Linked DNA regions of Homo sapiens. The protein of the gene in region 2 interacts with the protein of the main gene of each other region in a pairwise test. Each region holds a gene or a part of one and is shown on either strand. Other genes may lie near its edges. The genes, in order: USP15, CCDC57, PRDM6 and PRPF18.

Region 1 (6,514 bases), on a different chromosome or scaffold from region 2:
GTCTAAGGTGTAATATAGATTTTTGAGGTGACAAAGAACCCAAATCAAGAGTACATTCCTTGTCTTTGGACAACTGTATTGAACAGATAAATGTTTGGGGTATCCCCAACTCAAAAAAGTATTCCTGGCCTTGTGTAGTCAAAGTATTATTTTTGTGGAGATGCCAGAAGCTCCAAGTTGTGAAAAGCGTCTGAACAAATGGGAATTCAGGATGCCCTCCAACTGGAGCAAGAGATAGCAACTGTATCTTCCTTACTGGAAAAAAGAATTCCTTACAATTAAAACTTCTTTAGAAAAATATAAATGAAATATAAATTTTCTACATTTAATCTTGAATATTCCAAATTCATAAATACCGAACTTAAAATGTTAGTATATCTAAAATGTACGTTTTTAGTGCACATTCATAAGGTAAATTACTTTTAAAGCTGTTAAAATATGTAGCCAGCAACATGTCAGGAATACAACACAATCACAATAAACACAATAAAGCTTCAGACTTTCAGAAAACTTGTTTAATAACTTTTACATTTAGGAACAAATACTATGCCACACATACACCATCTTAACATCTTAAGAACAATATTCTTCCATCAGGTAATTGTCTAGTGGGGGAAGAGACACACGTAACTTATAGCCCAAGGTGGCAGTTGATGTCAGAAGATCTAGCAAGTGCATTTTGGAGCAAGTCTTGAAGGAGTGTAGGAGTTCGCCAGGTAAGAGATAAGGCAGACCATGCAAATGTGGGACAAATGTGGGAAAGCCCCATTGTCAAGTAGTATGACATGTTTGAGGGCAAGTGAGGAATTAGATGAGGGCAAATTCTTACTTTTTTTCCTTCAAGCACCAGGTTAACAGGCAACCTGGGTGGACTGACTGTACCATACTCTTTGCTCTCTTGCTAAAGAAAGTTTATTAGAACTTGAGTATGAATCGTATTGAACAGAGAGCTGCTCTCATTCATAAGGAAGGAACAATCATTCCCATAGTTGGGTACTTCTTTATTAGTAATAATACCTGCCACATTTTTCATAATGATCAAGACACAAAACCTTGCAATTATTCTGAAAGGTAGGTAATATTCAATTACAGTGGTAGGAGTGGATGGCTTAAGTGAATGGGGATTTGGTTTCCTTATAAATATTAATAGCCCTCCATCACAAGCAAACTGTATATTCTGAGAAAAGTCATAGGTTTGCTAAGCAAATATGCAGTTTTAAGTCACATTGTTCCCTTCTAATCAGGTTGCTCACCCCAAGCCTTCCTAGATGGACATTCGGGAGCTGCTCTAGTTTACAGAGAGGTGAAAGGCAGAGAGGTGAGGTGAGTTGCACAAAAGTGGTAGGCTCAGAGGTGGTTTAACTCCTGAGCCTATGGTCCAAACCACTCTTTTCTACATGAAGGGATGTGATGGTTTATTTAATGTGTTGACTGGGCCACAGGGTGCCCAGATATGTGGTCAAACATTATTCTGGGCATATCTATGAGGGTGTTTTTGGATGAGATTAACATTTAAGTCAGTAGACTGAGTAAGGCAGATTGCCCTCTCTAATGTTGGTGGCTCTCATGAATTGAAGGCCTGAATAGAACAAAAAAGGCTCAAGTAAGGATAATTTCTCTTGCCTGATTGAACTGGGACATCAGTCTTTTCCTGCCTTTGCACTAAAACTGAAACATTCAGTCTTCCTGGGTCTTTAGCCAGGTAGCTTGTGGACTGGAACTTTTATCATTGGTTTTCCTGGTTCTCAACCCTTTGGACTCGGACTTGAACTACACCATTGGCATTCCTGGGTCTCCAGCCTGCTGACTGAAGATCATGAGACTTCTCAGCCTAAGTGCATGAACTAATTCCTTATAAATCTTTCTCTCCCTCATATATATATATATATATGTACATATATGATATATATGTATATACATGATATGTGTATATATGAGGGAGAGAGCTATACATATATGTGTATACACATATGCATCCTATTGGTCTTGTTTCTCTGGAGAATCCTGATTAATACAAGGAATTAGAAGAGAACTTTAAGACAGAAACAGGATCTCATTTTTTTTTTTTTTAAATGAAACCATGAAGATCATTCTGGTAGCAGGATAATGGACTGAAGTAGGAAGGGACTGCCAGCCAGATGTAATCCTATTGAGTGCACCCTGAATACACACTTCTATTTTTAAAAATGGGATGCTACATTATAGGCTGCCAAAGACATGTAGTTATTTAGTACTGGTTAAATGAAAATACATGGCCAGGTGCTGTGGTTCATGCCTGTAATCCCAGCACTTTGGGAGGCCGAGGTGGATGGATCGCCTGAGTTCAAGACTTCAAAACCAGCCTGGGTAACATGGTGAAACCTGGTCTCTACAAAAATTAGCCAGGTGTGGTGTGGTGGCACATGCCTGTAGACCCAGCTACTTCGGAGGCTGAGGTGGGAGGACCACTTGAGCCCAGAGGCTGGAGGCTGCAGTGAGATGAGATTGTGCCACTGCACTCCAGCCTGGGTGACAGAGAAAGACCTTGTCTCAAAACAAAACAAAACAAAAACCAGGCATACCTTGTTTTATTCTGCTTCACTTTATTATCATGCTTTGAAGATAATTGTTTTTGTTTTTTTACAAACAAGGCTTGTGGCAAGCCTACATTGAGCACATCTATAGGTGTTATTTTCCTAACAGAATGTGCTTACTGTGTGTGTGTCATATCTTGGTACTTCTCACATTTCAAATGTCTTCATTATTATTGTATCTGTTACGGTGATCTGTGATCAGTAATCTTTGATGTTACTGTTTTGTTTGAGGGCACAGACGTGTGTGTTCCAACTGCTCCACTGGCCATTCCCCATCTCTCTCCCTCTCCATGTGCCTCCCTATTCCCTGAGACATAACACTATTAAAACCAGGCCAGTTAATAACCATCCAATGGCCTCTAAATGTTCAGGTGAAGAGCTGTACATCTCTCTCTCTCTCTCAATCAAATGCTATAAATGATTGGAGCTTAGTGAGGAAAGCATGTTGAAAGCCAAGGCAAGCTGAAAGCTAGGCCTCTTGAGCCAAACAGCCAAGTTGTATATCCAAAGGAAGAGTTCCTGAAATTAAAAGTGCTACTCAAGTGAACACATGAATCATAAGAAAAGTGGTATAGAGAAAGCCTGAGTTTTTTTTTTTTTAATAGATCAAATCAGCCACAACACTATCTTAAGCCAAAGCCTAACGCAGAGCAAGGCCCTCTCTCTTCAATTCTATGGAGGCTAAGGTAAGGAAGCTGCAGAAGAAAAGTCTGAAGCTAGCAGTGGTTGATTCATGGAGTTTAAGGAAACAAGCTGTCTCCACAACAGACAAGCATAAGGTGAAGCAGCAACTGCTAAAGTAGAAACTACAGCAAGTTATCCAGAAGATCTAGCTAAGATCATTGATGAAGGTAGTTACACTAAAAACAAACTTTCAATGTAGATGAAAGTCTTATGTTGGAAGATGTCATCCAGGACTTTCATAGCTAGAGAAAAGTTGATGCTTGGCTTCAAACGAGAGACTGATTTCTTGTTAGGGGCCAATGCAATGCTAACTAATGTTCATTTATCATTCCAAAAATCCTAGGGTCCTTAAAATTAAACTAAATATAATGTTTTTGCTCTATAAAAGGAACCATAAAGCCTGGATGGTAGCACATCCGTTTATAGGAAGGTTTACTAAATATTTTAAGCCCACTGCGGAGATCTATTGCTCAGAAAAAGATTCCTTTCAAAATATTACTGCTCATTGACAAGTGCACCTGGTCACCCAAGAGCTCTATGGAGATGTATGAGATTAGTGTTTTTCTGCCTGCTAACACAACATCCATTCTGCAGCCATAGATCAAAGAATAACTTCAGCTTTCAAGTCTTATCATCCAAGAAATACATTTTATAAGGCAAAAGCTTTCATAGATAGTGATTCCTCTGATGGATCTGGGCAAAATAAAAACCTTCTGAAAAGGATTTGCTATTCTGGATGCCATTCATTCAGAATATTTGTGATTCATGGGAGTCAAAATATCAACATTAACAAGAGTTTGAAAGAAGTTAATTACAACTTTCATGACTTTGAGAAGTTCAAAACCTCAGTGGCGGCAGTAACTGCAGATGCGGTGAAAATAGCAAGAGAACTACAAGTGGAGCCTGAAGATGTGTCTGGATTGCTGCAATCTTATGATAAAACTTGAACAGATGATAAGTTGCTTCTTATGGGTGGGCAAGGAAAGTAGTTTCTTGACAATCTCAACATCTGTGAAAAGAAGGGGGGAAAGTCTTCTCCTGGTGAAGATGCTGTGAACATTGTTGAAAAGACAACAAAGGATTTAGAATATTCCATAAACTTAGTTGATGAAGCAGTGGCGGGGCTTTAGAAGATTAACTCCAATTGTGAAAGAAGTTCGGAAAGAAGTTCTACTGTGGGTATCAAATATTATCAAATAGCACTGCATGCCAGAGAAATCTCTTGTAAAAGGAAGAGTCAATTGATGAAGCAAACTTCACTACTGTCTTATTGTAAAAAATTGCCACGGCCACCCTAACCTTCAGCAACCACCATCCTGGTGAGTATCTATCAAAATGAGGCAAGACTGTCCATCAGCAAAAACATTACTACTTGCTGAAGGCTCTGATGGTTATTTAGCATTTTTTGGCAATAGTTTGAAAATTAAGGCATGTACATCTTTTTTAGGCACAATGTTATTGCAGTTAATAGACTACAGTATAGGGTAAATATGCCTTTTATATGCACTGGGAAACCAAAAAATTTGTGACTCACTTTATTTAAATATTTATGGTGGCTGGGAACCGAACCTGCAATATCTGAGGCATGCCTGTACCCACAGTTGTTACTAAATATATCTGCTATGGGCTCAACTGTGTCACCTCCAAATTCAGGTTGAAGCCTTAAATAGTATTTGGAGAGGAAGTCTTTAGGAGATAATTAGGTTTAGATGAGGTCATGAGGGTGAGGGCTTCATGACGGGATTAGTGCCCTTATAAAAAAGAGATGCCTCAGAGCTTGCTCTCCTCTCTGACCCTCCTCTGCTACCATGCAAGAACACAGTGAGAAGGCAGCCATCTGTAAGCCAGGAAAGGCACCCTCACCAGAAACCCAGTATACTGGTACCCTGATCTCAGATTCCCAGCCTCCAGAACTGTGAAAATATAAATTTCTGTTATTTAAGCCACCCAGTCTGTGTTTGTTATGGCAGCCTGAGCAGACTATGACAGTATCCAAACACATAAAAGCCATAACCTCTGGAGTCTGGATTATTGTCTTTAATTCAAATGACTTTAATGACTAATGAAACTGGACCAAAAAACAAAAAGACAACATAATTCATGTCAGCTGAAGGCAAAGGTTCTAAATGTGTTACGAAGTTATGCTCACAAATAGCTTTAAAAATTATATTTGTAACTGGATTTTGTTTTTGTATATTACTTTATATCTTGAATCTAGAATAGTGCCTGGCACATAGTGGACACTCAAAAAATATTTGATGAAGGAATGAATGAAGCTCTAGAGGCCTTAACAGATACAGAACAGATGGTTTGCTCCAGAGCCCAGTGCCATCCATCTAAAAAGTGAGGAGCCAGTTAAAGAGTAAAAATGAGAAAGAGCAAGAGGATGTAGTGACTATCTGAGTTGTCTCCAGACTTTGTGTACATGACTTTTCTCCTTCTAGCCCTCAGCTTCTACATCTGTAAAGTGGGATTCCTCAAGGATCTCTAGGGTCCTTTTCCCTTATTTCTGCATAAACAAATTAAAGCTTAGCAGCTAAAAACACAAACATCTGTTATCTCACAGTTTTTGTGGGTTAGGAATTCAGGTGTGGCTTGCTGAGAACCTCTGGATCAAGGTCTTTCATGGTGTTGCAACCAAGGTGCCTGTTGAGGATGCAGTCTCATATAATTGGATTCTAATATCCCTGATAAAATTTTAATTTTCAAGTTTACCATCATACTAAGACTTCTGTTCCAAGTCTTTTATAGGAGTGAGGCCCAAAATTAAAAAAAAAAAAAAACAAAAACAAATATTAACTTGACTCATCAATGCTATTAGTTATTAATTCCTTTGCTAAAAATATATACTTTTAACGACAGCTTCAAAAATGAAATTTAAGCCTTCCTCTCCACACCCATAAACTAATACTTTCAAGAGACCAGCATAATTTTATGGTTGTGAAAACAGTAATTCAGAGGTTAATGACCTGTTTGGAGCTAGCTATGGTGGAAGTTGTTGTAAGTGTAGAATGTTTCCTACCATATCTCACTGTAGGTAGTACCCAAATATCTAGGATTAATGATGTTTACTGTTTGAATTTGCAGTATTACTTCAACTTATACAATAGGTACATAGCTCAAAAGTGAATATAGCTCTGAGTTCTAGAAATTAAAAAGCTTTACCAAAGTCACTATTTAAGGGAGACCTACAGGAATTCTTTCTCAAATTAAAAAAAAATACTATAAGTAATTTTCCCATCTTTACTTTTTTTTTG
Region 2 (7,028 bases):
GGCCAGGCTGGCCTTCAACTACTGACCTCAGGTGATCCACCTGCCTTGGCCTCCCAAAGTGCTGGGATGACAGGCATGAGCCACGGCGCCCGGCCTGTCAACGTAATTTTAAGAGTTAAGTGTGAAAGAATGTCTATCATATTCATCCTTGCCATTAGTTTTCCTTCACTCCTGACATTCCTAGTTTCCTTCCTTCTGTTGTGTCTAAAGTACCTCCTTTATCAGTTCTTTTAGATCCAGTCTGCTGGTGACAAACTTTTCCTTCATCTGAGAATGTCTTTATTCACTCTCATTCCTGAAGAATATTTTTACTGAATGTATAATTATGGGTTGACAGTTTTTTGCTTTCAGTACTTGAAAAATATTATGCCACTTCCTTCTGAGGAGAAATCTGATGACAGCTGCTGCTGAGAACCCACTACCGCTCCAGTCACTGTCCCCTGTGGGCTGTGCATCGCTCTCTCTGTGTGCTTTCAACAGTTTTTGTCTTTAGGCCGGGCGCAGTGGCTCACGCCTGTAATTCCAGCACTTTGGGAGGCCAGCGCAAGTGGATCACCTGAGGCCAGAAGTTCGAGACCAGCCTGGCCAACATGGTGAAACCCTGTCTCTACTAACAATACAAACGCCACCAGCTGGGCATGGTGGCACATGCCTGTAACCCTAGCTACTTTGGAGGCTGAGGCATGAGAATCGCTCGAACCCAGGAGGCAGAGGTTGCAGTGAGCCGAGATTGTGCCACTGCACTCCAGCCTGGGCAACAGAGACTCCGTCTCAAAAAACAAGAAATTCATTTCAAATATAAAAGAGAGAGGTAGGTAAAAAGAAAAAGGGATGAAAAAGTTATACCACGCGAATGCTAATCAAAAGAAAGCCCGAGTGGATTAATTAATATCAGACAAGGTAGACTTCAGAACAAAGAATGTTGCCAGACAAAGAGGAAGATTACGTAACAATATAAGGGTCAATTATCCTAAAAAAAAAAAACCCTAAATGTATACACATCTAACAACAAAGATACAAAATATATGAAACAAAAACAAAGAATCGTGATTTAAAAAATAAAGATCTATATTAAAACAGGAATAGAAAGAAACTTCCTTAACCTCCCTCCACTACCCCCACCACAAAAAACCTTCAGCAAAAACTCAACCTAAAAAAGTGAAATGCTGAAAGTTCTTCCTCTGGGATTAGGGAGAAAGACAGCTATTATCAACATCATACCGGAGAGTTTAGCTAGGGGCGATAATGCAAGAAGAAGTAAACAATATCAGCATTGGAAAAGAAAAATAAAACCTCCCTTATTTTATTTTACTTTATTTTTTTTGAGATGGAGTCTCGCTCTGTTACCTAGGCTGGAGTGTAGTGGTGCAATCTCGGCTCACTGCAACCTCCGCCTCCTGGGTTCAAGTGATTCTCCTGCCTCAGCCTCCCAAGTGGCTGGGATTACAGGTGCCTGCCACCACGCCCAGCTAATTTTTTTGTATTTTTAGTAGAGACGGGGTTTCACCATGTTGGCCAGGCTGGTCTCAAACTCCCGACCTCAGGTGATCCACCCACCTCGGCCTCCCAAAGTGCTGGGATTACAGGCGTGAGCCACTGCGCCCGGCAAAAACCTCCCCTATTTGAGACAATCTGTGCCAGTGGAGTGTCCTGTCTGGCCCCTCCCTTTCTTTTCCTGCCTTAGGCCTGCAGATGGGGCCTGCCTCCCCTACACTAAGGGGGGCTGTGGCTCCAGCAGGGTGAAGGCATCTGTGTGGAAGGCAGCCAGGCTGGGCTGTCAAGCTCGGTGATGCTGGGGAGGCATCCAGGCAGGAGAGGGGCCTGCAAATAGGGGAAGGGGCCACAGCAGCAATGGGGGATTGGTTACACCAAGAGGACTCGATCAAAGTAACTGTGTTAGTGATAATGGGCGAGCCAGGTTTCTCATTATTGGGAAAGGAAGTTAGAATAATGAAAAAGAAAGCTAGAATGCTAGAATGAACCTTTTGATGTTGGACTAACCACAATGGAATAGATTAGCCTATGAGTTTGTCTTGAAATTAAGACCTTCCATTCACCAAAGACACCAGTGAAGGAATAAAAGGCAAGCCATAGACTGGGAGAAGATATTTGCAACACATATAACCAACGCTAGGCTCATATTCAGCATAAAATACCCTAAAAAAATCTATGACAAAGGGCAGATGATCCAATAAACAATGGGCAAAAGACATGGCCTGGAGCTCCAAAAGAGGGGCTGTCGAAAGGCCAATTCTATGGACTGAGCTCTGCCCCCCAAAATTTACGGGTTGAAGCTCTCACCCCGAACATGACTGTATTTGGAGACAGCGCCTCTGAGGAGGCAGCTAAGGTTACATGAGGTCCTAAGGCTGGGGCCCTGGACTGTTGTCCTTACAAGAAGAGGAAGAGTCGGGCGCGGTGTCTCACGCCTGTCATCCCAGCACTTTGGGAGGCTCAGGTAGGCAGATCACGAGGTCAGGAGTTCGGGACCAGCCTGACCAACGTGGTGAAACCTCATCTCTACTAAAAATACAAAAATTAGCCGGGCGTGGTGGCATGCACCTGTAATCCCAGCTACTCAGGAGGCTGAGGCAGGAGAATCGCTTGAACTTGGGAGGCAGAGGCTGCAATGAGCCAAAATCATGCCACTGCACTCCACCCTGGGCAACAGAGCAAGACTCTGTCCCAAAAAAAAAAAAAAAAAAGAGGAAGAGACACCAGGAGTGAGCATGCAGCGGGGGAGGAGTCACGTGAGCACGCAGGGGGAGAGTCCACATGAGCACGCAGGGGAGAGGGTGCCGTCTGCAAGCCACAGAGAGGCCTCAGGAGGAACCCACCCTGCCGGCAACCTGATCTCTGACATCCAGACTCCAGAAGTGAGAAAATAAAACCGTTGTTTAAGCCACTCAGGCTGTGGTGTTGAGTTACGGCAGCCCTAGCCAATCATACGCCAATGCACACAGGAAGAGATGTTCAATCCCACGAATCTCATGAATTTGCAAATTAAACCAAAATAGGATGTGCTACGTGTCCACTAGAGGGAACAGAAGGAGCCGCTGACCACGTAAGTGTTGGCGCGCATGCAGCACCACGGCTACCTCGCACGATGTGGATGGATGCTTTGGAGAAGAATCTGGCATTATCAAGTGAAACACAGTGTAGGTCTGAAGACGCCAGACAGAAGCACAGGTGCCACAGAATTCCATTCACACCAAAACAGGGAGCGCTGACTGCAGTGAGCAGCCAGGGCACGTGGGCTCCGGAGGGAGCACAAGGAATTCCATTCACACCAAAACAGGGAGCGCTGACTGCAGTGAGGAGCCAGGGCACGTGGGCTCCGGAGGGAGCACAAGGAATTCCATTCACACCAAAACAGGGAGCGCTGACTGCAGTGAGGAGCCAGGGCACGTGGGCTCCGGAGGGAGCGCGAGGAATTCCATTCACACCAAAACAGGGAGCGCTGACTGCAGTGAGGAGCCAGGGCACGTGGGCTCTGGAGGTAGCTCCAGGAATTCCATTCACACCAAAACAGGGAGGGCTGACTGCAGTGAGGAGCCAGGGCACGTGGGCTCTGGAGGGAGCACAAGGAATTCCATTCACACCAAAACAGGGAACGCTGACTGCAGTGAGGAGCCAGGGCACGTGGGCTCCGGAGGGAGCACAAGGAATTCCATTCACACCAAAACAGGGAACGCTGACTGCAGTGAGGAGCCAGGGCACGTGGGCTCTGGAGGGAGCACAAGGGGCTGCTGGGCTGGATGACGCCGCCCCAACGTCTGCAGTAGCCTTGAGCTGTATATTTGCTATGAGCGGACTTTTGCAGGGGTCAGATTTCAGTTTATAAGGGGACAGCAAGTACCCCACTGAGACGCGGACTTACCAGTCGTCTCTGTCGAGGTGCGGACGCTGGGCTGAGACTCAGCATGAGGTGAGGACATCTTTAAAGGATCCAACACATCTTCTAGATGCTTTTCCAGAGTTTTAAACTTATGCTTTAGAGTTCGTATTTCTGCTTCAAGGGCCAGAACATAATCTGCCAAAAAAACCTCCAGTGAATATAACACATACACAGCATCCTTTCGCACCTCCCTCCTGTGAGCACCAGCTCAGGGAGCCGATGCCAGCTCATGCCCGCCAGCTTCACTGTCCCTGTCCTCCTCACACTACAGCTTCACCGTAGTTTCCACACTCTCTGTGTGTGTCAGACTGAAAGACCTTCCCTCCCCTCACTGGCCAGAGTGTGCCAGCCAGAGACCAGCACAGTCTCCATGCTCTCCAGGAAGGGCTCAGTGATCAGGAGCAAATGCTCCACCTGCCGCCAGCCCACGTGCCTCTGTGCAGAGGGGCCAAGTCCCATCTCGAGAACGGAAGCTCTGCCTCCATCCCGGCATCTGCCCACCCACAGCCACTCATGGGGTCCCTGGGGGTCGGGAGGCCCTCATCAGCTCTGCCACAGACGCTCCTCTGGAGGAAAGGACTGAGGTCCACCAGCCCCTGCTACCAACCCATTCTGGGACAGCGCGACAGCAAGCCAGCCCTGGTCCAGGTCTAAAACAGGTTTTTAAGTGTGTCAAGCAGGTACCCTCATTTTTTCCTTCCACTTTACAAATATAAAAGCTTTTTGGTATAAAACTTAAGATCCCTTCTCTTGGAGAAAAAGCAGTTTTCATACTTTGAGTTTATTACAGGGGATGTTAACTTATAGGACTCTGAAATGAAGCCTCCTTGAAGCCAGTCAAGACCCATGCTCCCGTCTGTCCTCCTCCCTCCCTCTCCCCCTTCCTCTCCCGCTCTGTCCGTTTCTCCCACTTACTCACCAGGAGTGGCGGCATCTCCCCCAGCCTCTGGGTCAGGCTGGTTTGCATCTGTGCTCTCTGCCGCTGTCTGGATGGGAGGAGGAATCTGATGGCTTAGAGCCTCCATTTCTTTCCTCATCTGGGCAATCGCGTTTCGCAAGCTCGTGTTCTGCTCTCGGAGCCGCTGGATCTCACTGGATGGAAAGTCTTTACTTATTTCTTCTTCATGCTGCCTGAGAAGCATCTGTCAAATACAAGGAAAAATGGCTACAAAAAGATGAATGGTTCCCCAGCTTGTCCTGACAGGCTGTGCCTCCGCTCTCCCCGCGCCCCTCTCGGGCCGGTCCCCCGCTTCAGCTTGGGCTGTGGTCCCTCCCCATCCCCAGGCTGTGATGCCCCTCCTTTCTGACAGAAGTGCAAATATGACACTCAAATTCCTGGAGCCTTTCATACTTTTGAGATCCCTAGAGTGTCCAATCCACAGAGGCAGAAAGTGGAATGGGGGTGCTGGGGCTGTGGGCGGGGAGGGGGAGCCAGTGTTTCTTGGGGACAGAGCTTCAGTATGGAAAGATGAGAATGTTCTGGAGAGGGTGGTGTGATGGCTGCACCTCCGTGTGAATGCGCTTCATGCTGCTGAACTGTGTGCACCAAAAAATAGTTAAAGCAGCCAGTTTTGCGTTATGTATACTTTAGTACAATCAAACATCCACTAAATAGGATGAAGAGCAGGTTCAGAGCGCGCAGAAGAAAAGGCAGTGAATATAAACACCTGGCAACAGAAAATACCCAAACTGAAGCTCAGAAGGAAAGGTGCCAAAGAAGAAAAAATGAGCAGAGCTCTGGAGACCATGAACAAGGTGCACAAGGAACCAGGAGCCCAGATGAACGCAAAGACAGGAGACGCGTCTACAACAAGGCCAGACATGTTACAAATGTGCTGAAAGCCACACATCACAGATGACGAAGCAAATGAGCTGAAAGCCGACATCACAGATGACGAAGCTCAGTGAACCCTAAGCAGGATAAACAGAAAGAAAATCATACCAAACAGCACATAATCAAGCTGCTGAAAAATCAGCAACAAAATGGAAACTCTAAAAGCAACCCGAGAAAAGAGACATGTTACCCTAGGGTCAAAGGGCAGGCATAGGGATGACAGACCCCGCAAGGAGCCACCAAGGCGGGAGGACAACGAGGTGAGGTGGCTCCGGTGCAGGAGGAGAGACAGGCCCCGCCCACCCAGTTCCTAGGGAGAGGGAGTGTCCTTCTCTAACCAAAGGTGAGGGGCGCTTCTGCCTCTGACCAGGAGGGACTCACTGCCATGAGTCTTTCCCTGCGGCTGTGAACAACTAGAACACCAGACACATTAGAGGAAACACCTGCTTCCAGACGCCAGCATAGACCCCAGATACGGGAGAGGGAAACAAAGTCCCAGGGTCTGGCCCAACTCAACCTTGAGTCCAGCCAAGATGTGTGCAAAAGGCACAGCTTCCTCTCCTGTGGAGCCACCCTGAGGGACGCAGAGCCTGCTCCCTACTCTGCACTCCATGAACACAAACCTGAAGCAAGATCTGGGCCCTTCCCAGGACGCTCTGACTGCCCGCTGGCTCCTCCGTGCTCCCTGGCAAGGCCAGCTGGCCTGGGCTCCCAGGAGGAGAGCTTCACACGCTGCGCTCAGGGGTGGAGAGGATGCGAACAGAACCTGCACCTCAACTGGCAGTTTAGAAACGGAGACAGTGCGATGCCTAACCCTGTTTTTACTCTAACTCGCTACTTTAAATTTTGCCCTGTTTGTCTCTTTAATCACCTAGCCTTGTTTCTCATGTAAATAAGACTCTCTCTAGCTGGGAAAGCCGGACAAACTCCAACTGACCCCTTAATTTACAAGACACTAAGGGCTCCTTACCCAACCCCCTTCCGCAAGGAGTTGACCTGTGTAAGCAGATCCTCAGCATTTCAAAGGAGCCCAATTAACTGATAAGGTACTGGCACCAACAACGTCTGAAGTTCCCAGGATTCTTCTCAAAGAGATAACAACATAAAGCCTTGAGTTCGTGTCCGGCATAGCATCTATGTCTAACTATAATGAAGGATTTAGAGCCCTGCACCTGGTACCGTTGCTTTTTGTAACCATTTGTCTTTTAAATTGTTTATCGCTCTGTAACCATTTGCTTCTTTTGATTCTTGCATGTTTTTACTTCTGTAGAATTATTGCCTTTGAGTTCCCCTCCC
Region 3 (7,028 bases), on a different chromosome or scaffold from region 2:
GCAAGTATTTTAAATTATGAAATAAAAAGATTTTTAAACTGCCTTGGAAAAGGTATGTCTTACTGCTAAGTGAAATATAGCCATTGCAGGCTGAGAATGCTTCATCAATCTTGCAATTTCACTTCTGAATTAAATATATGCTAGAGAAGTCACCAGCAGTACACCCCAAATCCCTGGCTGTGTGCTGAGCTCCTGTACTGTTTACAATGCAGTCTGGAAAATTAATACGTTTTCACCAGAGAAAACAGACTAATTCGAGAAAGAATTAGGATAGATTCCTAATTAATATATGGGTATTGAACCAGTTTATTGCCTGGGTAACTTTTTTCTCTGGTTGGAGAAAATAAATTACAATTTTATTTAAATAATTTATATTGTGTTAATCTTCTGGTATCTCCTTTTGAGCCAACTGGATTGTTTCAGTGTTTGAAGTGCAGGGGAAAAGACAGAAGGGAAAGAAAATTAGATTGTCCTATTAGAGTTACACCCCACGTTGCTCACTAATTAAAGGGCAATTGAGAAAGAAAATAGAAAGCTGAGATAGCGCTGTGTAATGCTGGGAGACGAGATCTCCCATTCTTCCAGGAACTTCTCTGGACAAGCAAGCTTAGGCACTCATTTGAAGCCATGGGATGTACTTTTACAAAGATGAAACGTGATTGAGTTTAATCTAAGTAGGGGCTTAAAACAAGTCAGAAATGCAAATAGTGGGAAACTCGTTTCCTTTGGCAGGGGAAGTTGGCATAATGGTTATTGAAAGGCTGTGAAAAACAGAAGCTTCTCCTCATTCTCGAGTTGTATGTGAGTGGAGGTGGAGTGAAAGGAAGGGTGGAGGCAGAGGGAAGCTCCTATTAATTTATCATGTATAGATTTCCCTAGTTTTTCTTTTAGTTTTTTTACCATCTCCCTCTAAAAGAATTCTGTGAAGTGACCACTTAGCATTGCTTCATTTTGTCACTTCGTACTTAAAAGGATAGGTATTGAGTTGTTTTCTCTTTTTCTCACAAGGCGAAATAAAAAGGGCGGGATGCGGGGGTGCCTCCTTACTTCTCCCTTCCCTTTAGCAAAGTAACTTTTTGCCTAGGATCAGCAATACATATCATTGCTCTGTAAGAAAAGAACTTAGGAACACTAGTTTCACCTTGAAACTTTATTGGCATCTATGGTAAATGTCACAGTGATGGGGCTTGTAGCTCTCTTTCGTTCTAAAAGATTTTAAAACAGCAGAAACTGCAAGCTACCCGGGTGAGCTTTTCCAGTATGTTCCTAACTCCGTATCAGTTTACCCTGTGACTGAAGTACAGTTTCCACCGAAGCTCTGAATGCTTTGCTGTTGCTGCTGCTGCCGCCTTCTCTTAAAAATCAAGTGGTGCCTCCTGCGATATAAATGGGGGATGGGGCCCTTCCTTCCCCGTCTAATATTACTGCCCTCATTTGCTGCTGGGCTGCCTGAAGCCATTGATTTAGTCAGGCTCCATCGGAGTGGCCTCTTCCCGGGTTCTGGGAGCTGGTGCGTTGCCTGCTCTTGAAAAGTAGAGAGAGACAGTCACAGGGCGCGCCTGGCGTTTCTGAGTAGCATCCCGGCTGTTCTCTCAGCACAGCCCATTAGTTTTTCAGGCCTTTTTTGTAAAGATGTGCTTCCCTAGGACCTGGGAGGGAGGCGGGAACTGAGCCACTTTGGGTGTCTCGGGGGAGAGTTGGACCACTTTGCAAATTCCCCAGTTGGGGGAGGGGTCTCTGTCCCCTCCCGATTTACTGGAACCCTCCTGCGCAGGGAACAGGCTGGAAACAGCGCCGGTGTGTGCATGGGTGTGGGAGCGGGGCTTGAGGCTTCCTTGTTGGGAACACCAGGCTTTCCAAGGGTTTAGGGAGAGGGGCTGGGGAGAGAAAAGGGAGTCTGGGCCTAACACTGGTTTGTCCGGTTGCTTGCTAAGGGGTCAAGGAAAGAGACAAAGGAGGGCGAGTGTTTTCTGACCTTCCCTAATCCCTTCCCACCCAGGTGGAAAACGCAGGTCCTGTTTGGGCAACTTCGAGCCCAGTGGCACACCAGCAGGCTTTTTGTGCAACCGAGGAACATCCACTGCGCCCCTTCTGCCCTGCGCCTCCTCTGTCAAAGACCAGCGAGCGCCTTAGATTGCAGACCTGGTCCGGGTGGGAGGGAGCTTTGGCTTCAGTGCGTGGGCTTTTGTGTTTCTCTCTCTCTCTCTCTCTCTCTCTCGCGTGTGTGCAAGCCCAGCCTCATCCCATAACACACATGATTTAGCTATTTTACATCTTTCGTTATCTAGCGCCCTGAAACCGAACATACAGCCATATATTAGATTGAGGTTAGAAGAGGTGGCGACTGTTTATTCAAGGTGATAAAATGGTCCATCAGCAGTAATCTCCATCGATATGTGCCACCAGGAGATGAAGGATGAGGGGACAAGCCACAATTAATTGCCCTATAGTTTTGTAGGAGAGAGTGGAGCCAGCCCAGACCCGCTTCGATCTCCTCTCGCGGCTCCTATTCATCATCTCCGCATTGTATATGGCAGCCTCGCAGGGGCAGGGGCCGGCGAGGTTTATCTCTGCGCAATATTCTCTCACCCTCACAAACTGGCGCTCCCATTTAATTTATTAATACAGTCATCGGAAGACAAATAAGACCCACATTTTCTCCCTCCCACCTTCTTGCTCTCTTCTTTTTGTCTCTCCCTCTTGGTCCCAGGGTCAAGCCCGCAGCCAGGCAGGGCAGAGAACGCCCAGAGCTTTTGCGATTCGCGGGGAGCTTTAAACTCGCGTAGAGGGAGAGTTCCTGAGAGAATTCCCAGGAGCTGGGCCGCCCCGCAGGGTCGAGACTGAAATCAATTGGCTCCCCTTCCGGCGGCCAGGCAAACCTGCCTCGCCTCTGGATCTGCTTCTAGACCCGCTCCCGGGGCTTGGAAGACCCCTGCCGGGTAGAGGAGGAGGGCCGGGTGGGTGGCGGGGTGCAGTGGGGACGTCGGATCGTGGGTGGTGTCGGCGGCCACGCCTCATGTCAGAAGAGAGCCTTTCGTGGGCAGGAGCGGGGTGGGACCTTCAAAACTCAGCCTTCGGCGCTGAGGCCTGGGCGCCCCACCCCGCCCATCGCTCCCTTTCAGCCATCCCATCTAGCCTATAGCTCGAGAAGGCAGTGGGGGGACCGCAGGCTGGAGCCCCGGGGGCGTGAACCCCACGCGAGAAGTTCGGGCCCGGATGCTCTGCCTGCCCGCCCTCTGCCCGGCTCCCCAGCCCCCACGCCCCTCCCCGCCTAGGGCGCACGCGGCACTGCCAGCAGGCGGCACTCCCGGGTCCTAGTCGCCGGGCTGGGATCGATGGGCGCCGGCCCCTCGGGTCTCGGCCTGCGAGACTGAGGGCCGCGACCTTGGCGGCGGTAGGGGAGGATTTACAGCCGGGGTGGATAGTGGCGCCCAGGCGGGGAAGCAGGCTTTTCACCTACTCCTTGCTTTCCTATATGCAGGGCGGGTGAGAGCCAACGAAGGCGTCGGGCAGGTACTGGGGAGTGAAGATGTGATGTAGCTCTCACTCCCCACGCGCCTACACATGACTGTTGGCCTCTCCACACACCAAAAGCCCGGAAGCGTTTTATATTTCACCTTTCCTAGAACGAGAAATGAAATTCCAGAAAAGAAAACCATGGCCTGCTTTGCCGCCTTTACCTTAAAATAGATATATTGTAAAGATCTATTGCACTTTAAAGACATTGAAACAACACAGAAGGATAGGAAATGAAGAGTGAAAGTCTGCTCTTAACTGCACTTGGCCTGGCCTTCTGATGCCAGGAGGCGAACAAGTCTGTAACCTAATGACAGCACCTTCCTTTACTCAGAGACGCTTAGACAGGAGCATTGACAGATTTACTCAAGATAGAAGAGTATTTATGAATAACAATTATGAACTTGTACAAAAACTCTTCCCCTGATTTTAAGAGAAAGTATGAACATTTACTTGCTTCCTTGTTAGGAACCTAAGTAGTTGTATTATGTATTGCTTGGCTTGGAATGCTCTGTGTGTGTATATATAATATAATGACATATATTATATACATTTATACATAGTTTGGTCCTCTCATATAGCCTGCTTCTCTTTCAAACCTTTTCATGTAGGTGTTTATACTCTGCTAGAATGTTTGTCTTCTTAAGCATATTTGTCAATCCCAAGAAATGTTACTTGTTTTTAATATCCTCAAGCTACCCTGAGACTCAGACATAAGTTAGAACCCAAATGTTTCAGCTGGGGGATTTTGTGTATTAAAAAATAACATTGGAATATAACATGTATCTTGATGGCAGTTGGTCAACTTTTCTGGCAGAATATTTTGATATAGCATGAAGTGGTTCACAAATTAAGAAGACCCCTGTTGGGTGGACTAATTAAAGTTGATTGACTTTGTCTAGCCTGCTGTGGACCTAACACACAGATAGTCTTCTAGATATTGGGAGAGCCTCAGTTTTTCACTTTTAATAGTAGCATAATGCTACTATTAAGTTTTTCAACTCTTTATGGAGACAAATGAAACAATAAGTTGAAGACGGCTTTAGAGGACTTCTTGGAGAAAGGCCTTAGCCACAGTTTTATTATCATGCATTACAAATATTAGAAGTGTGCTTTTTGTCTATGGAGGTAGTGGCTGGAGTTGGTACCTATGCTGATGTCGTTGATGGGATGACACGTGTGGAGAAGCATGTTGGAAGTTGACTGTCTCTGGCACAGGCTGCTAGGGAATGAAAACTAAACACTCTTCTGACCATTTGCATCATTGAGTCAAGCAGAAAAAAAAATCAGTTAAGTAACTCCCTGGAGTGACTTATTTCTATTTCCATGGGCATATTGCCTTTGCTTATTGTCATTTGCTTTTAGCTATTTTTGCAAAGGTGCTGAAAGGCTGTCTCTGAAGTCAGACAGTAACATTCAAAATTATAGACATTATCTATGTATTTTCCTATCCAATCTCTTACTTTAATGTCCGAAAACACAAGAGTGTGGGAAAGAGAGAAACCTCTATAACTCAATCATGCTACAGCAATTTTCATGGCCCCCAAAGTTACTTCAGTGAAATATTTCAATTCAATTGAGTCATGAGTTTGAATGTTAAATTTCCCCAGCTTTCATTAGTCTTTTAAAAATCTCTGGGTTTAGAGGCCTTGCAGTCAGGCAGCCTTGACTGTGAATCCTTTCTCTGCCACTTTCTAGCTTCTGGTTCTTGGTGGAGTAGTAGTGCTTGGGAATTGCTTTATCTGCAGAATGGGAATCATGATACTTAGATAATATGCTGGTTTTTGGTTCTAGACAGGTGTCTGACACATGGTATGCACTGTAATTGTGTTTATTGTCTTTCATGTAATTCCCAAAATGTCTTGAAGTTTTTATTTTCACAATCAATAAGCTTGAGAGGGTGTGTGAAGTGTGTGTGTTTCAGAGGAGTTGACATATGGATAAGTGTGAGAATACTCCCATCCAGGCCCTGGGGTCAAAAGCAGAGTCTGGGAGAATTTTAACAATAGTTTGTGTTGCTGGCAGAGGAAGGACAGAAGAGGGCCTTTGTGCAAGGGAGGCCCAGCGGCATGGACACTTCTCTGCTTTCCGAAACAAGTTGTTGCTTTTCACTTCAGAGGTCTGGGGACATTTCTGAGAAGCTTGCAGCCCTCATTCTTCCAGCTCTCTTGGGAGGAGTAGAGGAGTAGCTGCTGACTGAGGCAAAGGTTTGGCTGGCTAGAGCCCCCTCCAGTGAGACAGGAGGCTTACATAGTCAGCCCTCCTTTGCTGTGAAGCAAATGGCAAATCGAGGGCTCCCTTACCATGCTGGGTTGCGATTAGCTGTTCCTGACACAAACGTTTCATACAGACTCACAAGTTTCTTGGGCATTTCGGTCATTTCAGCGCAGATAGGGCACATCCAGGGTGATCCAACAGGCCTGGCTGCGGCCAAGGCTGGCGGCGGCAGGTACCCGGGTGCCCCGAGGGCCACCCGCCGCCCCGCTCTGGCGCATCCATCAGTGGCCAGCTTTCACCGTGTCTGCCAGGCGGGACTCGCCAGGTGTCAGGCTCAGTGCCATAAGCCTGACACTTGCGCGGGGTCGCCGTGGCTCCTCAGGGAAGCTGGGCCAAGGAGGCTGGGTCGCGCCGGCGGGCGCCGAGGCCACCTTCTCGGGGCAGGCCATCCGCGCTGAGGCGCAGACACGGCGGCTCCTCCAGGCCCATTAATAACCCGGAGGGCGCTGCGATCCGACAGCGCAGTCGCCACAGGCTCTATTTCCCGTGGCCGCCTGCCTCCTTCCAGCCCAGTTCGAGTGGAGGGATACTGGGCGCCCACTACCGCCCGGCCCGGAGGGTGGGGGTCCCTCTCGCGCAGGCTGCTTTGGAGAGTGTCGGAGAGAGACAGCTTTATCTACAGCTTCACCCATTGTATAGCACAACAGAATCGCATTTAGCCTGGAGAACAGCCGTCGGGGCAGGAGTTGGTGCCTTCTCTAACAATTAGGCTGATCGTTAAATTTGCTATTCCTTTCTTCCGGCGTCTAGGGAGAGCGTGCACACCAAACCCTCCAGAACAGCACCCCGGTCCCCCACCCCGCCCCACCTGTCCCCGCCCTGCTTCAGTGCCTGGAGGGAGAACTGACTGGTCGCTTGAGGGACCCCATTTCGGGCGCGCCCTTGGAGTCCTGGGGCTGCGGCTCCTGCTCTACCGGGCTGCAGGCTTGCTCTGCCCCGTCCCGTGGCGTTTGGGAGGCAGTCGAGGAAGCCTCCGAGTCTCTGGGTCGAAGGAAGTGCGAATGGCACCCGCGATAGACTGGCCGTCTCCCCCACCCCGCCCCGTCTGGTGATTTTAAATCGTCTCCTGTGTAATTGTAAAAAGAGGAAAGCTGAATACCCAGACGACCAGTATAGAATCTCTTCGAGACAGCAGATTGGGCAAGAGACGGGCTTTTTTTCGCAATACAAGGATAAACACATCCTGAAACTCCAGATAGAAACCTCAGGAATGGGCGAGAGGGTCAGAAGGAACG
Region 4 (7,028 bases), on a different chromosome or scaffold from region 2:
GCTACTTACATGATACAAAATTGCTTTTTAATTAAGATTATACACTAACACTCCAAAAGCAGCACTATAGCAAAAATCAGACAGCAAGATATTGCCAAGCGTTGGCAGGGCTGGAAAGACAGGGGACCCTCACACTGCTGGGTGTAGACTAGGACAGCCATTCCAGAGAGTAACTTGGCAGTACTTAGACAAGTTAAATATACATATATAAATCCCACAATCCCACTTTGCTAGGCCATCGTGGTTATGCACAAGACTGTTCATCAGGAAGCTGTTTGTGGTAGGAGAGAGCTGGGAACAATCTAGCTGTCCATCATTACCGGAGAACAAAAAGTCAAATGCAGTGAATGGCGTAACACATGGAATCCTATGTAGCAATTAAAAGCAAAGGATTCAGTGTACACAGAGCATCAAGGATAGCTCTTAAAAACATAGTGCTAACTGAAAAAAAGAAAAGTAAAACACGGAATAAAGAATTTCACAGCATAACATCATTTATGTAAATCAAAAATACATGCTCACAAAACACTGCAGGTCACAAGAGCACCAACAAACAGAAAGATGCATATCCAACATATTAGAATGGGTTCCTTTTGAAGGCAGGAAGTAGGGGAATGTGAGTGGAGGATGAGAAAAAGGGGAGTAAATAAATAAAAGCGAGGAGTAAATAAACAAAAGACCAAGGACAACAGTGTGCTCTGCCCTCAACAATCTGCCCGACTCAGTCATCTGCTCCAGAGGAAAAAGAAGGGTGCCAGGGATGTGCTGGGCTTGGTGTAGAGATTACCTCTAACTCTTCAATTGTGGTGTTTTCCTCATGAACTTTCAGATCATTCTGTGTGTCTTCCTCTCCAGGCTCCTGACCGCCGACGATTTCATTGAGGTACTGCTGATCAATCTTATCCAAGGCTGCTTTCAAATCATTCCTCAATCCCTAAGAAAAGCAAAAAAAGGAAGAACACCTGTTATGAAAGGAAGAACACCTGTTTTTTCACCTTTGATTTTTCATTAATAACTGCAAATATTTTTTCCCCCACAAGAAGAGTTCAGCAAAAGTAGGGACTCAAATCACATCAATTTATCACACAACTATCACTACTGTCCATTTAAAGTTAATTCTTACGGACCTATTTAAATTAAAACAATGCACAAACAATGGCCAGTCTGCTGGTCAGAAAAATAAAATACACGTGAGTGACAAATCCAAGTAAGAATCTTCATCAATGCTGTAATTTTCTAATGAGGCTTAGTGACAGTGGCAGGTCTCCATTAGAGTCCCCAACCCGTTTGCCCAGCTCATTTACAATGTCTAACCTCAACTACTGTGAACTCCCAAAACATTCAGAAACATCAGTGTAATAAAATTGGTGCCTCATCTATATCCCAGGTTCTCAACTATGTTTCTAGCAAACCAGCAAATTCGCATTTTATGCACATATGGTTCATGACCCTTTAATGAAAATGGAAGCCTCATCTTCCTAAAAATGAATGAGAATCAGCTGCAAGGTTTAAGAGCCAAGGAAACATGGCTGTGAGGCGGCTATAGGGTAATGGTTGAGAGTAAAAGCTATCTGGGTTCAAATCCTTGCCACATACTATTAAATAGCTCTTTGAAAGCTTGCTTAACCCCTGTGTGCCTCAGTAGACTCACCTACAGAATAGGAGTAATGGCACCATCTACTACGTAGGGCTGTAATAAGGATGCTATTTTTTATTTCAGTGAACAGTTACTATGTGATGCAGCTGTTCCAGAACCTCGCAAACATCAAGTCACGCAAGTAAGCTAAGAAATGGACGATGAGCTTTGAACAGTTACTGGAGCACGGTGCACATTCAACCAATGTTAACTCCTAACGTTCTCACACAAAAAGCATCTGATCATTGTCTCCTGTCCCTTCATAAACACAGAAGAGAAACATTCAACTCAAAACACTTATAATTTCTCAAACACTGACTGATCACCTGCTGTGTAAAAAGTATGACGCCAGGCATTCCCAGAGGTCACCTCATCGAATTCTCAGTGCATCCCAGTGAGCCAAATATCACTGCCTCTGTTTTACCAATGAAGATTCTAAGGTTCAAATAGAGTAAAAGACTTGCCAACGGCCAAATAATTGATTACTATAATCCAGGAATGGAATCCAGACCTTGTGCTCCTGTGCTTTGTCCTCAAAACCTCTAGATGCACGGCACAGGACTTGGCATACAAAGGTAAAACAGCCTTTGCCCACCAGGAAGAGATAAATATGCACATAACTCTAATAATAGCGAAAAACAGTAAGTACACTAACAAAGGTTTACTCATAGGCACATGGAGAAGGAAGCAATTAATTCTGACTGGGACCAAAAATAGATTCCGAGAGAAGATGTGGTCACTGAATTGCATGTGAAAGTATAAAAACAAGATTTCAACCAGAGCATACAAGGCAGAAACACAGCAAGCAAAGGAAAAATGATCATTACAGACACAGAGGACTGAAAGCAACTGCTAGTGTTGTGGGGCTGGAATGACAATGCTGGGAAGTAAAGCAGGAAAGTGGTTTGGCAACAAAGAAAGCAGTCAGACAGCCCAGGCTAGCAGACAGAGCAGGTCGGGGAGCGGGCCTGGCCAGCCCCAGCTGTTCCTGCCATTCCAACTGAGACGCCAGGAAAGGGGCAAGATATCAGCTTAGAAGACCAGTCCAGAGGCAGCCTCACATGATTTCGGCCGCAGCCTTCATCTGACTGCAATCACAATAAAGACCCCAAGCAAGATACTGCTCAATCCAGCCCAATAAAACCACAGAACTGGTAATTATTAAGACAATAACAAATTATCTTAAGCTATCAAGTTTCAGGGTGGCTTGTTAATCACCAAAAACAGATTTGGTAATGATAAATCCTTTATAATAAATAAACAAACACTAGTAAGTTTTGGAGTAGTCTGTTACATAGTCATAGGTAACCACACCTGTCTCTCAATAATTGAGAAAGCAAGTAGATAAAAAGTTAGCAAGGCCAAAGAAGATCTGAACAACACTATCATCACTGACATTTGTAGAACTGTACCATGAAAGCAAAACAATACTCTTTTCAAGAGCCCATGGAATAAACCATATGCTAAGCCATAAAACAAGATCAGAGCCTTAAATGTAAAGCAAAAACTATAATATTAAGCTTCTAGAAGAAAATTAAGAATATATATTTGAAATCTTGGGATAGGCAAAGATTTCTTAAGCAGGACACAAAAAGCAATGACCATAAAAGGAAAAAACAATAAATTGGACTTCATTAAAATATAAAACTTCTGGCCCGGGCACTTCGGGAGGCCAAGGCGGGAGGATCCCTTGAGTAGAGGAGTTCAAGATCAGCCTGGGCAACATGAGGAGGCCTCATCTCTACAAAAATTAAAAAATCAGCCAGGCATGGTGGCACACACCTGTGGTCTCAGCTACTTGGAAGGCTGAGGTGGGAGATCGCTTAAGCCCAGGAGCTAGAGGTTGCAGTTAGCCATGATCATGCTGAACTCCAGCCTGGGTGAGAGTGAGACCCTGTCTCAAAAAGCGTGTGTGTACACACACACAAACTTCTGTTCAGCAAAAGATTCAATTAAGAGAACAGGTAAGCCCTAAACTACAAGAAAATAGTCACAAAAAATATTCGTATATCTGACAAAGAACTTCTATCCAGAATATACAAAGAATTCCTATAATCCATTTACAAAAAGACAAGTTTATTTTTAAAATGAACAAAAAGCGCCTGTAATCCCAGCTACTTGAGAGGCTGAGGTGGGAGGACTGCTTAAGCCCAGGAGGTTGCAGCTGCCATGAGCCATGATTATGCCACCGCATTCCAGCGTAGGTGACGGAGTGAGACTCTGTGTCAAAAAAATAAATAAATAAGGAAAGAAAGACTTTAACAGACACTACACAAATGAACACAACTTTATGAAAAGATGCTCCTCATCTTTAGTCATCAGGTAATGTGATTAAAGCCGCAAAGAGCTACTACCAGACACAAAAGAGAATGGTTAAAATTAAAAAGACTAACAATACCACATGCTGGGGTTTGGAAATGACTGGCATTTCTTATGAAGTTAAGCATACATCTACTCTTATTATCCAGCAATTCTACTTCTAGGTATCTCCCCAAGAGACCTATTTATTTACCCAAGAAAAATAACATAGTTCCAAAAAAAGATCTGCATAAGAATGGTCATAGCAGTTTTATCCCTGTTTTTTTTTTTTTTTTTTTTTTTTTGAGAAGGAGTCTCACTCTGTCGCCAGGCTGGAGTGCAGTGGCACAATCTCAGCTCACTGCAACCTCCACCTCCCGGATTCAAGTGATTCTCTTGCCTCAGCCTCCCAAGTAGCTGGGAATACAGGCACACGCCACTACGCCCAGCTAATTTTTGTATTTTTAGTAGAGACGGGGTTTCACCATGTTGGCCAGGATGGTCTCGATCTCTTCACCTTGTGATCCACCTGCCTCAGCCTCCCAAAGTGCTGGGATTACAGGCTTGTGCCACCACGCCCAGCCAGCAGTTTTATTCCTAATAGCCCAAAGCTGGAAACAAATTTTGATATATTCATACAACTGAGTATCACTGGAAAATGAAAAGGAAACCAGTGGTATCTGCAATAACATGGATGAACCTAAAAACTGATATGCTGAGCGAAAGAAGCCAGACACACAATCTATGAGTCCATCTGTATGAAATACAAGAACAAGCAAAATTAATCCATGATGACAAAATTCAAATGGTGGCTGCCCAGGAAGGGATGAGGAGAAATATGAGGATAGGCTGAGAAGGGGTACTGGGGAAATTTCCTTTTTCTCTTTTTTTTCAACTTTTAAGTTCAGGGATACAGCTGCAGGATGACAGGTTTGTTACATAGGGAAACGTGTGTCGTGGTGGTTTACTTCACAGATCATCCCATCACCCAGCTATTGAGCCCAGCATCCATTCGCTATTCTTCCTGATGCTCTCAGGGAAATTTCTTTGGTGACGAAAATGTTCTATTTCTTTATAAGGGCAATGGTTATATGCTTGTATGTATTTGTCAAAATGCATTAAATGTTATACTTAAGATATGAGCTTTTCAAAAAATTAATGAAAACTTCCATTCAGCAGCAATAATCTGCTCACTTTACTTTTCCATTGTTGCCTACAATAATGCAATTAGTCAAACTCTATTCTAGTGAATGCAGTACAGTGGTATTTTTCTAGCTTTGTTCTGTCCTCTTACCTTGTTAACTTCTGGTGTGAGGATCTCTATTTTCCTTAAACGTTGAAAAGCATCATAATCAGTCTCTCCAAATAGTCTGATTGGTTCTCCTCTTTCTCTCAATCTTCTGATGACCTACAAAGTGAAACAGATACCCAGTAAATTTTTTTTTTTTTTTTTTTTTTTGAGACAGTCTCACTCTGTTGCCCAGGCTGGAGTGCAGTGGTGCGATCTCGGCTCACTGCAAGCTCCGCCTCCCAGGTTCAAGCGATTCTCCTGCCTCAGCCTCCCGAGTAGCTGGGACTACAGGCGCCCGCCACCACACCCAGCTAACTTTTGTATTTTTAGTAGAGATGGGGTTTCACCATGTTGGCCAGGATGGTCTCAGTCTCCTGCCCTTGTGATCCGCCTGCCTCGGGCTCCCAAAGTGCTGGGATTACAGGCGTGAGCTAATGTGCCCAGCTATTAAACTTTTGAGAGAGGAAAAAACTAAACATCTCAAAAACAATTTGTATATTGTACCTTAAAAGCCAAGCCTGGGTTTAATAAAAGCTAATTATCCAAATACATGCCTCTGTGTAAAGTATAAAATCCTTCAAATATTTTAGATCATTTCAATTAAGCTAAACAAAGATGTTTCCAAATCAAAGAGAAAATCAAGTACTTTAAAAATCTATTTTGACTCAAAAGTCACTGTTATTAATTTTATCACTGAACAGCTCCTAGAAAGTGGTCTGACCTATGACTCTACAATTCAAGTCTAAAGAAAGACCCTAATATAAACCACCTCTTTTACTGTGAGATTTTTAAAAAATTCTTTTTTGTAAGAAAAGGGGCATGTCTGTGGCCCTCATTTTACATAATTATAACTGTTCTTAGTCTTCTTTTAAAAACAATGGAAAGACAATAGTAATCCCTTATGTCAGCATATTTTTGGTGATCAAACACTTGTTTTGAAATGTAGATGAAAAAAGTAATCTGTTTATTCTTTTAATTTTCCATAAACAGATATACTGTGTTACCATCACACCTTAAGTAACCATAAAGTTTAGGTCGTTTAGCTCACTGCTTCGATAGGACCAATCTGTGTGGCAGGACACACAGGAAAAACACTAAGATGGGAGGGAATGACAGCATTTATAGAGAGAAGGAAAATCAAATCTGAAGCCAGCTGATAATTACCATAATGGACAGTCTGCATTGTAATACCACCATGAAACCAAAAACTTCTCCCTCAGAAAACAGGGAGTTATAATCTGCATATGCAGAGCTTTTAAGATGCTGAAAATCTATTTCCAAACTTGGGTGATGGTTACATGAATATTTATTTTATAATTATTCATATATGTGTAACAAACATATATTGCCCTAACATGGTTCATACACTTTATATACATGCTATGTATGTCATTTTAAAAAGGAAGAAAGAAACAGAAAACGTAATAAATACTAGTCCAAATTTTTTAAATAAAGCAATAATGAGAAACACCAAGAGCTTTACCTGGGAGCATAAATAGCATCACACCTAAAATCCATTGAGAGGGCTCCCAGTGGATTAACAGAAGTTTGAGATTAAAACAGAAATTTAAGAGGTCATCTAGTGCTATCTCCAATCAATGCAGAAATGACCTCACAAACACCCTTGTCAGATCCCTGGCTGACAAATGGCAGGAATCACATTTCTTCGTGAAACATCCCATCCCATTGTTTAGACAGAGATGTTTTGCTTCTCAAAACTGAAATCTACTTCCCCCAAACTTCTACCCATTTATCCCAGTTCCACTTTATGAAACTACAGAGAATATTCTGATTTTCCAAAAT

Evidence for each region.
Region 1: the proteins of CCDC57 (region 2) and USP15 interact in binary tests that used the Homo sapiens proteins (3 or more experiments, as listed by UniProt).
Region 3: the proteins of CCDC57 (region 2) and PRDM6 interact in binary tests that used the Homo sapiens proteins (3 or more experiments, as listed by UniProt).
Region 4: the proteins of CCDC57 (region 2) and PRPF18 interact in binary tests that used the Homo sapiens proteins (3 or more experiments, as listed by UniProt).

Annotation. Positions count from the first base shown.
Region 1 is NC_000012.12:62,410,376-62,416,889, reverse strand, and holds the end of USP15 (ubiquitin carboxyl-terminal hydrolase 15), read right to left. Parts: 3' UTR 501-6,514; downstream 1-500. UniProt on the Homo sapiens protein: Hydrolase that removes conjugated ubiquitin from target proteins and regulates various pathways such as the TGF-beta receptor signaling, NF-kappa-B and RNF41/NRDP1-PRKN pathways.
Region 2 is NC_000017.11:82,167,821-82,174,848, forward strand, and holds part of CCDC57 (coiled-coil domain-containing protein 57), read right to left. Parts: intron 5,041-7,028; coding exon 4,818-5,040; intron 4,034-4,817; coding exon 3,881-4,033; intron 1-3,880. UniProt on the Homo sapiens protein: Pleiotropic regulator of centriole duplication, mitosis, and ciliogenesis. Critical interface between centrosome and microtubule-mediated cellular processes. Centriole duplication protein required for recruitment of CEP63, CEP152, and PLK4 to the centrosome.
Region 3 is NC_000005.10:123,092,241-123,099,268, forward strand, and holds part of PRDM6 (putative histone-lysine N-methyltransferase PRDM6), read left to right. Parts: intron 1-6,986; exon of another isoform or gene 6,987-7,028. UniProt on the Homo sapiens protein: Putative histone methyltransferase that acts as a transcriptional repressor of smooth muscle gene expression.
Region 4 is NC_000010.11:13,603,945-13,610,972, reverse strand, and holds part of PRPF18 (pre-mRNA-splicing factor 18), read right to left. Parts: intron 5,343-7,028; coding exon 5,229-5,342; intron 935-5,228; coding exon 788-934; intron 1-787.